4 linked regions of the Homo sapiens genome follow. The protein of the gene in region 2 purifies or fractionates together with the protein of the main gene of each other region. This does not show direct contact. Each region holds a gene or a part of one and is shown on either strand. Other genes may lie near its edges.

Evidence for each region. Proteins that work in one complex are often made in the same cells at the same time.
Region 1: the proteins of KCNC3 (region 2) and NDFIP1 purify together in Homo sapiens (affinity purification with mass spectrometry; one large-scale study listed by BioGRID and IntAct). This does not show direct contact.
Region 3: the proteins of KCNC3 (region 2) and P4HA1 purify together in Homo sapiens (affinity purification with mass spectrometry; one large-scale study listed by BioGRID and IntAct). This does not show direct contact.
Region 4: the proteins of KCNC3 (region 2) and PCNX3 purify together in Homo sapiens (affinity purification with mass spectrometry; one large-scale study listed by BioGRID and IntAct). This does not show direct contact.

Annotation. Positions count from the first base shown.
Region 1 is NC_000005.10:142,125,779-142,129,278, reverse strand, and holds part of NDFIP1 (NEDD4 family-interacting protein 1), read right to left. Parts: intron 1-3,500. UniProt on the Homo sapiens protein: Activates HECT domain-containing E3 ubiquitin-protein ligases, including NEDD4 and ITCH, and consequently modulates the stability of their targets. As a result, controls many cellular processes.
Region 2 is NC_000019.10:50,322,878-50,326,377, forward strand, and holds part of KCNC3 (voltage-gated potassium channel KCNC3), read right to left. Parts: intron 1,206-3,500; coding exon 98-1,205; intron 1-97. UniProt on the Homo sapiens protein: Voltage-gated potassium channel that plays an important role in the rapid repolarization of fast-firing brain neurons.
Region 3 is NC_000010.11:73,086,867-73,090,366, forward strand, and holds part of P4HA1 (prolyl 4-hydroxylase subunit alpha-1 isoform 2 precursor), read right to left. Parts: intron 1-3,500. UniProt on the Homo sapiens protein: Catalyzes the post-translational formation of 4-hydroxyproline in -Xaa-Pro-Gly- sequences in collagens and other proteins.
Region 4 is NC_000011.10:65,629,276-65,632,775, forward strand, and holds part of PCNX3 (pecanex-like protein 3), read left to right. Parts: intron 1-81; coding exon 82-140; intron 141-244; coding exon 245-460; intron 461-1,075; coding exon 1,076-1,329; intron 1,330-3,500.

The sequences.
Region 1 (3,500 bases), on a different chromosome or scaffold from region 2:
AAGCTCTTGGCAAGGTATTCTTAGCCTCCTCACACCTAACCACTCTTGTGCTGTGGGAAGGTCACCAAAAGAAGCAGAAGAGTCAGCAGCAAGAACAAAGGCAAATACAGACTTTTCGAATATGTTCCCTTAATATACTGTAGCCAGTAATGAACTTCATTTAAACCTAGCTTGGTTTATACTTAACCCGTTTTATATTTCCTGAGCTTGGTGTCAAAGTAATCACGTTACCCCTGCATAATTTAGGTCTCAGAAAGGAAGCATGACAATTCTAAGAAATACAGAAATCCAAAGAACAAAGAGGTTAAGAGGTCTTCTATGACAATATTTATAAGATAGGCTGCCTGTCTCCTGGAAACTTGGAAATGTTAAATTTGATCATCCCCCACCATAGTAAAAGATGACAGTGCAAATAAATTCCAGCCTTCTTAGAACCACCAATTTTCACTTTGGTAAGGAAAAAAACACTTCCAGGTGAAGAGTTTGCTCCACTAAAATTCACTACTTTAGAATAGTGTACTTTTTTCAATTGAAAAATAAAAACAATTTAAAACACCATTATGACTATGGTATAATCCCAAGACCTCACTGTACAGGCTTCTCACTCTGGCTTATTTCTATAATGCTGGTGATAAGATTAGGCTCCATCAAGAAAGCTGTTTAAAACAAAACACTGCAATGTAGGGGGATCGCGGGGAGAGGCAATCACCTTCAAAAAGAGTAAGCACTTAGTGCCTGCCATCTGCATGCATAATAACTTGCTGAACAATGGAATCCTTAAATATACATCTTTTTACACTTCAGGGGCAACAAGTCAGGCATTCACTAACAAGTGGAGGAACCATGTGCGCTAGAACTAGAGTGTGCTATAAAATTGATTACTTGGTTCCAAAATTTATTTTTAAGATTCCCCTTTTCCACCCCTGGGAACCCTTCTGTGCAGCCTCCCTGCCATGTCCCTGGAGCTCAGGGATCTTCGGGCTCTTTCCTGACACTTTCTGAAAGAATACGCGGCATTGTCACGTTTGGGTTAGAGTTGGAAAGATGCTCAGTCTCTTCCATCAACTGGGTCAGTGGAAGCCCGAGTCCAATTTAACTGTCACAGAATCTGGGTTGTAGGGGATACTCAGAGAGACAGATCTGAAAACTGGGACAGATCTGGGAACTTCTGCTCTCAGTGCACAGAGATGTTGGGCAAGGGTAGGGGGGATATCCTTTGAGTGACTGTGATAGATAATAAATAGCTGTTGGACACTGGATTTTTTTTCCTGTCATATAATTTCTGACCAATTTTACTAAACTTCAAATATGATTTATTTTTTTGAGACAGAATCTCACTCTGTCACCCAGGCTGGAGTGCAGTGGTACCATCTTGGCTCACTGCAACCTCTGCCTCCTGGGTTCAAGTGATTCTTCCGCCTCAGCCTCCCAAGTAGTTGGGATTACAGGCATGCACCACCATACCTGGCTAATTTTTGTATTTTTAGTAGAGATGGGGTTGTGCCATGTTGGCCAGGTTGGTACCAAACTCCTGACCTCAAGTGATCCGCCTGCCTCAGCCTCCCAAAGCGCTGGGATTATAGGCGTGAGCCACCATACCCGGCTGAAATATGATTTAAATGGCATTTTTTCCAAATACAGCTATACAATTACCTACACAGGCCATACAAAGTAGAGTTTAATACAGAACTACCTATAACTACCTATGCCTCCATCGCTAAGAAATAAATAATCCAATCACCTGAGAATTCAGATGACCTTTCACTTTCTCACACCCAGAGTGTGCCATTACTCTTTTCCTGATTACCTTTGCTCCCTTCTATGTGCTGAGCAGACTAGAATGGCTCCCCAGAAGAACCCTAAAACTCTTCCTACTTCAGATATGTCACAATCTGCCATGGTGCCTTTGGCCTTGATGACCTTCAATTTTAAGAAAACATTTATTTACAAATAGGTGCTACTAAGGTTTTGTTCTCAAGTCACACCTGTAATCCCAGCACTTTGGGAGGCTGAGGTGGGCGGATCACTTGAGGTCAGGAGTTTGAGACCAGCCTGGCCAACATGGTAAAATCTCGTCTCTACTAAAAATACAAAAATCAACCAGGTGTGGTGGCATGCACCTGTAGTCCCAACTACTCGGGAGGCTTAGGCACGAGAATCACTTGATCCGGGGAGGTGGAGGTTACAGTAAGCTGAGATCAAGCCACTGCACTTCAGCCTGGGCGACAAAGTGAGATTCTGTCTCAAAAATAAATAAATAAATAAAATAAAATAGAGCGTTTTTTTTTCCCTCCTTATCACCTTCCTCTGTATCTAGGTCCTATTGTTATTAAAAATAAATATGACATTTTTATGAATCTCCAACACAGAAATCATATATAGTTCTAATTCTAATAGAAACAAACTTGAATTTAACACGTTTAAGACATTATACCCTACAGATTTAAACTATTATTTGAGTTCCCAATCAGCAAGAAAGCTTCACCACCGCCCTCCTCACTAAGCAGTTCTAAAATGAGTTGTTTTTAAGCAATAGCAGAGCTGGGGCTAGGATTAGGGCTAAGCAAGGGGCAACATTTATAACTGTAGCAAATGGCAGGACCTAAAGGCACTTAAAAGTCATTCTTGGATTATCTATATTTACTAAGAATGAGAGAACAACAAAAAACCCTACACTAAACAAAACCCATAAATCCTTATATATGAGAAAAGGTATCAACATACACCTCAGAATTCATACAAACAAACAAACAAAGCACGTGAAAAATAATGCTGAAGTATCCAGTAAGTCCATAAAGTTGCAAGTATTTTCACTACTTAATTTTTTCTTGGTTTGGTCATATTTAAACAGCAAGAAAATTCTTGTAAGTTTCAAGTCCCTTCTTTAAGTTATTAAAAATAAATATCAGAAAATTCTGGGTCAATGCTTGAACTCTAGTTTTGAATGTTATTTACTACTTCTATCTTAGAGTTAATTGCTAAAACTTTTACCTTAAAATGCAATTTTTAAAGCTCTCATTACCAACCCACTACTTCTGCATAGTCCCTAAATCCTACCAAAACAAGGCAGTATAATTACAAAAAGTAAACAAGCACATTTCTTTTGGTAAACAGCTGAGTATGCTATTTTACTGCTGTTCAGAAATAATCATTAAGTTTGTGTGGCCTGTACATTTACTTTATATATTGTAAATATAAACTCTGTTATTCTAACATCACCAAATTATTTACATTCAAGAAAAATTCTCTATCTAATTGTTATTAATTAGGGGAAGATATTTTAAATAATTCTGACAAGATAAGAGAGACTAAACAATAAAAAGGCAACCCAATTATAAAATGGGCAAATGATTTGAACAGACATTTCTCCAAAGAAGATATACAAAAGGCCAGTAGACACAAAATGCTCAACATCATTAAGTCAGCAGGAAAACGCAAATCAAAACCAAGACTCAATACCACTTCATGCTTACTAGGATGGCTATAATAAAAAAGACAGA
Region 2 (3,500 bases):
ACGCCAACCACCCCAGGTTCTCTGAACCCCGGCAGCTACCTCCCCAGTCCTCCCCGGGTCTCCACCTGTGCCCCCGATCCCTGACGCCCAGGCTCACCTGCCCGGTTGATCTCAATCACCTCCTCCTGAGCCAACGGGCAAGGCTCGCCGGGGGCTGGCAGAGGAGGCAGCCCCATGATCCCCAGCCCACCCGCTCCCCCCCTGAGCAGCCCGGGGTGCGTGTGGGGCCCCGCTGGGTAGGCCCCGGCCACAGTCACCCCCATGGAGGGTGGGGTGATGGGTGGCGGCGGGCTGATGCCCCCGCTGCCGTGGTGCGGGTGGGGCGGGGGTGGCGGGGGTGGGTCAGGCTTGCAGTAGTTGGGCGAGCCCGGTTGCGGGGGCCGGGGGATGTGTTTGTTCTTCTTCTTGGGCAGCTTCTGCTTGGCCATGGCCAGCGAATAGTACATGCCAAAGTTGTTGACAATGACGGGCACAGGCATGGCGATGGTCAGCACCCCCGCCAGGGCACACAGCGCCCCGACCAGCATCCCCGACCACGTCTTGGGGTACATGTCTCCATAGCCCAGGGTCGTCATGGTGACCACAGCCCACCAGAAGCCAATGGGGATGTTCTTGAAGTAGGTGTGGTTGGAGCCCAGGATGTCATCGGGGTCGGCGCCAATGCGCTCAGCGTAGTAAATCATGGTGGCGAAGATGAGCACCCCCAGGGCCAGGAAGATGATGAGCAGCAGGAACTCGTTGGTGCTGGCGCGGAGCGTGTGTCCCAGCACGCGCAGCCCCACGAAGTGCCGGGTCAGCTTGAAGATGCGCAGGATGCGGACGAAGCGGACCACCCGCAGGAAGCCCAGCACGTCTTTGGCGGCCTTGGAGCTGAGGCCCGAGAGGCCCACCTCGAGATAGAAGGGCAGGATGGCCACACAGTCGATGATGTTGAGGCTGCTTTTAAGAAACTCCACCTTGTCTGGGCAGAAGGTGATGCGCATGAGGAACTCGAAGGTGAACCAGACCACGCACACCCCCTCCACGTAGGTCAGGAAGGGCTCCGTCTCCACCTCCACGTTGGTGATGTTCTCCGGAGGTGCCCCGGGGATCGGGGAGGCCTGGGTCACCGTCTTGTTGCTAATATGGATGAAGCCCTCATGGGTTTCCAGGCAGAAGGTGGTGATGGAGATGAGGATGAAGAAGAGGGAGGCGAAGGCCACATACTGCAGGGCAGGGAGGGAGAGAGAGGGGGAGAGGTGACCTAGGCATCAGGTTGGCCATAACATCCAGAAGACCCTTCCAGTGCCCCCTTCCCCAGCCTCCTGGGCCCAAACTCTGGGCAAAATCCAGGTGTCTCAGCCCTGTGGCTCCATCACTTCCAGAATCCCATTCTCCCCTCTAAAGCTAGCAAAAAGGGAGAGAAAGGAACAGAGGCAGTTGGAGAAGAGCTGGCCCCAGCAGACGCAGCAGATGGGCAGCTTCTTTCCTTGGAAACATTTCTGGCCCCTTGCTGTTTCCTAGACCACCTCCCCCCACCCTCCTGTTCCCTGTGTCCTATTTCAGGGCCCCCCAGCAGGGTCCACGGGTTCTGCTGTGGGACGGGAGCCGCCAGGCCTAAGATCACACATCCTGTGTGTCTCGGAGGCTTTAGGGCTCAGCTTGGAGCTGGGCAGACGGGAAGGGAGAAGGCGGGCAGGGAGGCAGAATCGTGAGGTGGTTAAGAGTCGGCGAGCCTGGGCATGAATCTGGCTTTTAACCTGTCAAAACTGGGCAAGGAGACTGAGCTTTCTGAACCAGAAGTTTGTAGTGGGATTGTTGTGAGGATTAAATTAGATGAGCGTACGAAGGACTTGGCTCCAAACACAGTGCTTGGAGCAGTGCCTGGAACACAGTAAGAAGACCTGAGCTGTTGTTAGGGTATGCAGGCAGCAGTTAGTTGGGGGGCAAGGTCAAGGCCTCACCCAGAGAGGACAGGGCAGTGGTGGTGCCACAGAGGGGAGGTGGGGGTCCGGGCCCTTAAGGGAGGAGGGGTTGAAGGGTTAAGCCTGCAAAAATGGAAGAGGAGATAAAAGAGGAGAGTCAGGCAGGGTTTAGGGCCCTGAAGAGGAAGGAGAGTCACTGGCCTGGACATTGTGGGAAAAGGCAGAGCCAGGGCCAAAGAGAAGTTAGGGCATTTGCCAAAGGGGCAGAGAATGAGGGGTGAAGGGTCCTGAGCCATTTCAAGATGGGGGATAACCAGAGTCCTGCCACACAGTGATGTGGGTTTTGATGAAGGCCTAGAAGAGGAGGGAGTGGGGTCAGGGTCTTGGAGAAGGAAAGCAATGGGCCAGGCCCCTAGAGATGTCATGGGCTTTATCAGATATGCAGAGGGGTGGGAGGGGAGAGGAGTGCATTGGAGAGGGAAGGAAGACAGGTGTTATAGTAAAGAGAGGGTTTTAATCCTGCGGGTAGTGGAGGAGGGAGGGCATGGGGAGTTTTGCTATTAATCAGGGGCACAGAGCACGGGGAGGCCACTGCTGGACCACAGAGAGGACCTTGGACTTTGGGGTGGGCCAAGGGCCAGCACTGTCCCTCTGTGCACCCCCCTTCCTCCACAGGGGTTGGGCTCTGGGCTTGACTTCACTGAGGTGCAGAGCTGGGAAGTAGTGGGTGGAGAGTTTCGGGGCCACAGAGAGGACCCTGGACGTTGGGGTGGGCTGGGGGCCGGCGCAGGTCCTCTCTGAACTCCCCCCCCACCCCCACCTTCGCTTCTCTGCAGTGGTTTAAGAGGCCAGAGGCCTTCGCAGAGCGCATGCCTAGTTCCCCGCCCCCTCCGAGCCGGGCGCGCGGCGCTAGCTGCGGCACCGCAGTGGGGGCGGGCCAGCCGGGCCGGGGGGCGGGGCGCACGGCGGCCAGTACCGCGGACAGCTCCCCCGCCGCAGTGCGCAGCCGCAGCGGCTAGGGGCCGTCTTAACCCCTTCCGGGCCGGAGCCTATTCAACGCGCAGCCGCAGTGTTGCTGCTTTCCGGCGGGAGGCCAAGGGCCAAGAGTCTAATTAACTCCTTCCCTCCCAGGGCACAGGGAAAGGTGGGCACCCGCCGCAGTGCGCAGCTGCAGAGGCTGGACGGCGTCGGGCTGGTTTAACCCCTTACTCCAGAGTGTGTCAAAAGCAGAAGGGGTAGGAGGGCATGGAGTCTCTGTAAGAAGGAAAGGAGTGATTACGAGGAAGGGGGCGGGGGCAGGGGGCTGTAGGGTCGGACCCTCCACTTTGCTTTGGCCTCAGCTCCCAACTCTCTCAAGCCATATCACTGGGAGGCTGGAAAGGGCTCGGCACACCTTGGACACCCAAAACACATTGGCGGAGTAAATGAGTATCTCCCGTAGCTGTCCCGAACACCTAGCCTGACCATCACAGAAGAACTCTAACTTCATCCCGCTCCTCATCTCAGCACCCTTCAATGGGGTCACAGGAGAGAAGGGCGCCCCGGCCATGGGGGAAGGAGCCGCTCAGTGTCTTGAGGGGGCATCCAGGGCCATGT
Region 3 (3,500 bases), on a different chromosome or scaffold from region 2:
GAGGTTGCAGTGAGCCGAGATTGTGTCACTGCACTCCAGCCTGGGTAAAAGAGTGAGAGTGCATCTCAAAAAAAAAAAAAAAAAAAAAAAAAAGAGGAAATCAACCTAAGTTCTCATTTCACTTGGGTAAATACCTAGGAGCGGGAATGTTGGGTCATATGACAAGTATATATTTACCTTCATAAAAAACTGCCAAACGTTTCTCCAAAGTAGCTACACTATTTGCCCTTCCAACAGCAAAGGATGAAAGTTTCCATTGCTCCCATTCTTACCAGCATTTTGTATTGCCGTTTTTTCCTTAGTTTCTCTTAATATCTTAATTTTCACAATAGACATATAGTACTATCTCATTATGGGTTTAATTTGCAATTCCATAATTACTAATGATGTTTAATGCCTTTATTTTTTTTTTTTTTTTTTGAGACAGAGTCTCACTCTGTCGCCCAGGCTGGAATGCAGTGGCACAATCTTGTCTCACTGCAACCTCCACCTCCTGGGTTCAAGTGATTCTCGTGTCTCAGCCTCCTAGGTAGCTGGGATTACAGGCACGTGCCACCACACCTGACCAATTTTGTATTTTTAGTAGAGACGGTTTCGCTATGTTGGCCGGGCTAGTCTTGAACTCCTGACCTCAGATGGTCCACCCACCTCAGCTTCCCAAAGTGCTGGGATTACAGGCATGACCCACCATGCCTGGCCTATGTTTAACACCTTTTGGGGTGTTTATCTGCTGTTCATACACCTTCCTGCATAGTGTCTACTCAAATCTTTTGCTCTTTTTAATTAGGTTGTTTACTTTTTTTAATAGAGATGGGGTCTTGCTATGTTGCCCAAGCTGGTCTCAAACTCCTGGATTTTCAAGCAATCCTCCAGTCTTGGCCTCCCAAAGTGCTGGGATTACAGACGTGAGCCACCATGCCCAGCTTTGAGTTCCTTATACAGTCTATTTTTTGTCAGATATGTGATGGGGAATATTTTCTCCCAGTCTGTGAAGTCTTTTTATTCTCTCAACAGTGTGTTTGGAAGAGCAGAATTTCTTAATTTTGATGAAGTCTAATTTATCAGTTTGTTCATTTATGAATCATGTTCTTGGCATCATGTCCAAGAAATCTCTGCCTGACCCATGGTCAAAAATATTTTTGTCCTATGTTTTCTTTCAAATATTTTATAGCTGTACATTTTACTTCACAATCTATGAACATTTTTTAAAATAGAAACGGGTCTCACTCTTGCCAAGGCTAGTCTCAAACTCCTGGGCTCAAGCAATCCTCCTGCCTCAACCTCCCAAAATGCTGGGATTACAAACGTGTGCGACCAGACCCGGCCTACGAACCATTTTGAACTAATTTTTGCATACAGTGTCAAGTACAGATTGAGGCTCTAATAAAAAGATTTCATTTTGATGTTTGAGTGCAGATTGCCTTCAGGTCCCACACCTCTCTCCCTTTTGTCCCACATCTGGGTAAGTCTGTAAGAAAGCCCAGGTACTCCCTCCCTTGGTATTGGTGTAAAGTTGAAACCATATAAATACCACACTTGGGGACCAGTATTCCCTCCCTTGGTACTGGTGTGAAGTTGAAACCATGTAAATACCACACATGGGGACCATCAAACAAGTTCCACCTTCTGGTCAATAAAAACCAAAGCCACCCACCCTGTTTCACTCTTGCTTCATCCTGGACTAAACCTAAGTCCTTGACCTTGAGGAGTCCTTTTGCTGTTTACTGTGTGATTAAACTTTATTTCATATCCACTGGTGGATTCATGTCACTTGTCCCAATATTCACATAAATTCCTGGGCAAGGGACTGCCCAGTGTCCAACAGTGGATACTTGGTGCCCAAATAAAACAAAGATTGTTTTTTCTTTGCATATGAATATTCAACTGTTCCAGACTATCCTCTGTTGAACTGCCCTTAAACTTTTTCAAAATGAATTGACAATTTTTGTGTGACTAAATTCTCTATTTTGTTCAATTGATCTGTATGTCTATCTTTTCTCCAATACCACAGTCTTGGTTATTGCAGCTTTAAACTAAGTTGAAATCAGGTAGTATGAATCTTCCAACTTTGTTATTCTTTTTCAAAATTGTTTTAGCTTTTCTAGTTCCTTTGGTTTTCCATATTAATTTTAGAATCGGCTCATTAATTTCTATAAGAAATCCTCTGAGATTTGGACTAGAAATGTGCTGAATCTATAAATCAGTTTGAGAAGAGTAGGTATCTTAATACTGAGTCTTCTAATCCATGAACATGATATAATCAGTGTTTCATAATTTTCAACATACAAATATTACACACCATTTGAAAAGTTAATACTTAAGTATTTCATGGTTTTTAGTGCTAATGAGATGGGAATTTTTCACTTTAGTTTCTAATTGTTCATTATTAGTATATAGAAATACAATTTACTGTTGTATATTGACCTTCTAAGCTACAACTCTGCTGAATTAACCTATTCACTAGAGCTTTTTTGAAGAGTCACAGACATGTTGTCTGTGAATAGAAACTGCTCTTTGAAGCACACTGTTTAAAGAATGAAGACAAGCCAACAACTGGGAAAAAATATTTCCCTATCACATCTAGCTATTGCACTCCTAGGCATTAATATAAGAGAAAAGAAAGCATATCTCTCTCCAACAACTTGTACATGAATGCTCATAGCAGCTTTATTCATAATAGTCAAAAAGTGAAAACAATCCAAATGTCCATCAAAGGGTAAATGGGTTAAAAAAAATCATGGTATATTCATAAAATAAAATACTATTCAACAATAAAAAACTATGAACACATAACAACATGGATGAATCTCAAATTATGCTGAGTGTAAGGAGATTCCCCGTGCTAAAAAAAAAAAAAAAAAGCGTATATACAATTCCATTTTTATAAAATTCTAGAAAATAAAAACTAATCTTAAGCAACAGAAAGGAAACAATGGTTTCCTAGGGATACAGAGAGGGTAGTAAGGAGCAAAAGAAGGGATTACAAAAAGTCATAAGGATACTGCCGATGCCCCGGCTAGAGTGCAGTAGCGTGATCTTGGCTCACCGCAGCCTTAATCTCCAGGCTTTGGGTGAGTCTCCCACCTCAGTCTCCCAAGTAGCGGGGACTGCAGGCACACAACACCACACCTGGCTTTTTAATTTTTTTGTAGAGACAGGGTTTTACCATGTTGCGCAGGCTGGTCTTGAACTTCTGGGCTCAAGCAGTCCTCCTGCCTCGGCCCCCCAGAGTGTTGGGATTACAGGTGTGAGCCACTGCGCCTGGCCAAGTATACTCTTTTTTGAGACAGAGACTCATTTCGGTCACCAGGCTGGAGTACAGTAGCACAATCACAGTTCATTGAAGACTCAACCTCCCCAGCTCAAGCAATCCTCCTGCCTCGGCCTCCCAAGTAGCTAGGATTACAGGCAGGCACCATCACACCCAGCTAATGTTATTTTATTTTGTGTAGAGATGAAGTCTTTCTATGTCGCCCAGGCTGGTCTGGAACTCCTGGGCT
Region 4 (3,500 bases), on a different chromosome or scaffold from region 2:
GTGGCACAGGGAGAGCATGAGCAGGGTGCACCCTCTCTTCACCTTCTTGGCCAACCGCCTTGTTGCACTCTCTCTGAACAGCACTAAACGTGTGGATCATTCCAACACCCGCCTGGTCACACAGCTGGACAGGAACCCTGGTGTGTACCCAGCCATCCAAGGGGCTTTAGGGCAGGGCCTCCCTGGGGAGGGAGCCTCGCTAACTTGTCACTTTGTCCATTTGCCCGTCTGTTCTGGGTCTTAGGCGCTGATGACAACAACCTCAACTCCATCTTCTATGAGCACTTGACACGTTCGCTGCAGCACACACTGTGTGGGGACCTGGTGCTGGGCCGCTGGGGCAACTATGGCCCTGGTGACTGCTTCGTCCTGGCCTCTGACTACCTCAACGCCCTGGTGCACCTCATCGAGGTTGGCAATGGCCTCGTCACCTTCCAGCTGCGTGGCCTTGAGTTCCGGGGTGAGCCGCAGGACCAGGCTCGGGTGGGCAGGCACAGCTCGGGCCTGATGTGGGAGCTGTGTTCAATAGCACGTGCGAAGGAGGTCCAGTCCAGCTCTGTCCAGGCTGGCGGGTGGCCTTGGGCAAGGCACTCCTCCTCCCTGGGCCTGCGTTTCCCAGTCTGAGCAATGAGGTGGCAGGGTCTCTTGGCCAAGCCCTGTGCCTGCCCCAACTTTAGGTCCCAGTGACTCTACAGGTCACTGCAGTGAGGGCCTGGGCCTGGAGGTCTGAGTTCTCACACCCAGCCTGCTCTGTGGTCTCAGGCTTGGCCCATGGGTTGGGCGCCATGAGTGAGCCAGCTCCTTCCTCTCAGGAAGACGTGTGTGTTGGATGCCCGAGAGTGCAGAGGGGCCAGACCGTGTCCCTGCTCCCTCCCGCCCTGCCCTTGGATGCTGGGAGTTGGGAGGAGAAAGGCAGGCGCTCTTTCGTGAATCTTGGCATCCAATAAGGTTGACTCCCCTGGCGTCCAAGGGGGTGAATGGCAGCAGGCCTCTGATGCCATGTTGGTCACTCTCCCAGGACAGGGCAGGTAGGGATTGTTCTAGCAGCCCCTGACTGCACACCCCTCCTCCACAGGCACTTACTGCCAGCAGCGCGAGGTGGAGGCTATCACCGAGGGTGTGGAGGAGGACGAGGGCTGTTGCTGCTGTGAACCTGGCCACCTGCCACGGGTCCTGTCCTTCAATGCTGCCTTTGGGCAGCGCTGGCTGGCTTGGGAGGTAACAGCCAGCAAGTACGTGCTGGAGGGCTATAGCATTAGTGACAATAATGCTGCCTCCATGCTGCAGGTTTTCGACCTCCGCAAGATCCTCATCACCTACTATGTCAAGGTACGGTGGGCAGGTGTGGCCGGGCAGCAGGGCCCTTGCGGGTGAGCGCTCGCTGACCAGAGGCCCCAGTACCCCCTTTCTGGGTTGTTGGGAGCCTGTTTTGTCCAAGGGAAGCTGAGGCCTCAGAGAGTTTAAGTGTCCCCTGAGGTGCCACTGCCAGACCTCAGGTTGCAGGGGCCTCTGTGCCCATATGGCTCTGATAGGTGCCCAGGCAAGGAAGGCTTGCTTTGGGCAGTGAGTATGGGGCAGGTGGGCAGTTGCAGAGGCCAGCCTTTGAAACCACCAGCCCCTGCCCCCAGCTCACCCAGCACAGAGCAGTGGTAGAGCTAACAGTTGTCACGTTAACGATCATCATGGGAGCAGCTGCTTGAGCAGTAACATTTACCACGGGTGGGCGCTATGCTGGGCATCTCTCCTGAGCTGGGTGGAGTCCCCCACCCTTTGAGAGGGGCCCTGCTATCTCACAGATGTGGAAGTTGGCTTGCAGAGGTTCCAGAATCTGAAGAAAATGGCCAAGCCAGGCCTTGAACCCAGGCTGGCCCTGAGCCACAGAGCTTTCCTGCCTTAGCCTGGGGGCTCTGAGCCAGGCCTGAGGATCTTGAGACCTCTTGGGGGTGGGAGGGGGTTGGTGAGGCAATGTGGGGTACATAAGGAGCCCTGGAATGGGGGTTCTGATCAGCCTGGAATGTTTCTTCCCTGTGTCCCTCAGCTTACCCCTTGAGAAGTGGGGGTTATTGCAGTTCTCTGAGATGGCAGAAATGTTGAGGCTTGGCCAAGCGTGGTGGCTCATGCCTGTAATCCCAGCACTTTGGGAGGCCAAGGCAGGTGGATCACTTGAGGTCAAGAGTTTGAGACTAGCCTGGCCAATGTGGCGAAACCCCATCTCTACTAAAAATACAAAATAATTAGCCGGGTGTGATGGCGGGCACCTGTAGTCCCAGCTACTTGGGACGCTGAGACAGGAGAATCACTTGAACCTGGGAGGCAGAGGTTGCAGCCAGCCGAGATCGTGCTACTGCACTCCAGCCTGGGCAACAGAGCAAGACTGTCTCAAAAAAAAAAAAGGAATTTTGAGGCTTGTGGTGCTCAGAATAAGCGTACTGGGAGTGGGGTGGCCTGCTGATCACAGTGCAGGCTCCCACGTGCCTTCTTAGGATCTACCCTGGTGCTCCCTATGTTGGGCTCGGTGGGTGGCCTACTGGGGCCCAGGTGAGCCTGCCACCTAGGTTCTCTCTGGAGTAGTTTCACGAGGCCCTGGCTGTCCTTCTCCAAAGGAAATCCTGTCCACACCACATATCAGAGGAGCTGTCATTTGTCATTCCTTCTGCCCTCCCAGCCACTCCTAGGCAAGGATTTGTGAGACCACCCCCCTTTCATCAAGAAGGAGGCTGTGTCTAGAGAGGGACATTCCCAGTCCCAGGTCACCGAGAGGTCATGGCCTGGTCCACCTTCCGGTCCCATCTTGAGAGAGGTGCCCTTGCCCAGGTTGCCCTGCTGTGCCTGCTAGGCTAGGGCCAGCAGGTTGAGATGCACCTGGCCAGGTCTCTTGTCCCATGGGGAAGCTGACTGGCCACATCTAAGGCTGCCTCAAAGGCTGGGCAGAATTTGAGTCTGGAGGAAGTGCTTGGAGGACCTGGGGTGGCTCCGCTGAGGATGTGGACTGAGGGTGAAGCTTGGAAGGACAAGTCAGGGCTGCCAGGGGTGGGGCGGGGGGAGGCGGGTGTGCTGGGGAGCCTGGTGCATCTGGGGAAGTGTCCCAGCTGCAGGGATAGGTCCTTTCCAGCCTTCGAGGTTGGCCAGTCGAGGCGGAGCCCCTCCCGTTAGCTTTGCCCTTCCCGTGGGAGTTACTGGGCTCTCAGACCTGCTTCTGCAGCTGGGAAGGGCTACAAGAGCAGGAAAAGGCACCGTGGCTTGAGGCTGCACGGAGTCTGGGCAGTGCTTCCCGGGAAGTACCTTGGGCAGAGCCCAGCTCGCAGTGAGCGCTCACAGGCGGAGCGGCTGCTGGTATTGCCCCCCGTCTTCATTTTCTTCCTAAGATGACCGTGAGTGTTGTGTCAGAGAAAAGGATGGCACTGGTGAAGGTTAACCAAGCACCTGATATGTGCCAGGCCAGCTCCTCTCCCGGTCCCTGAAGCTTTTCTTTTTTTTATTTTTTTTTGAAACAAGGTCTC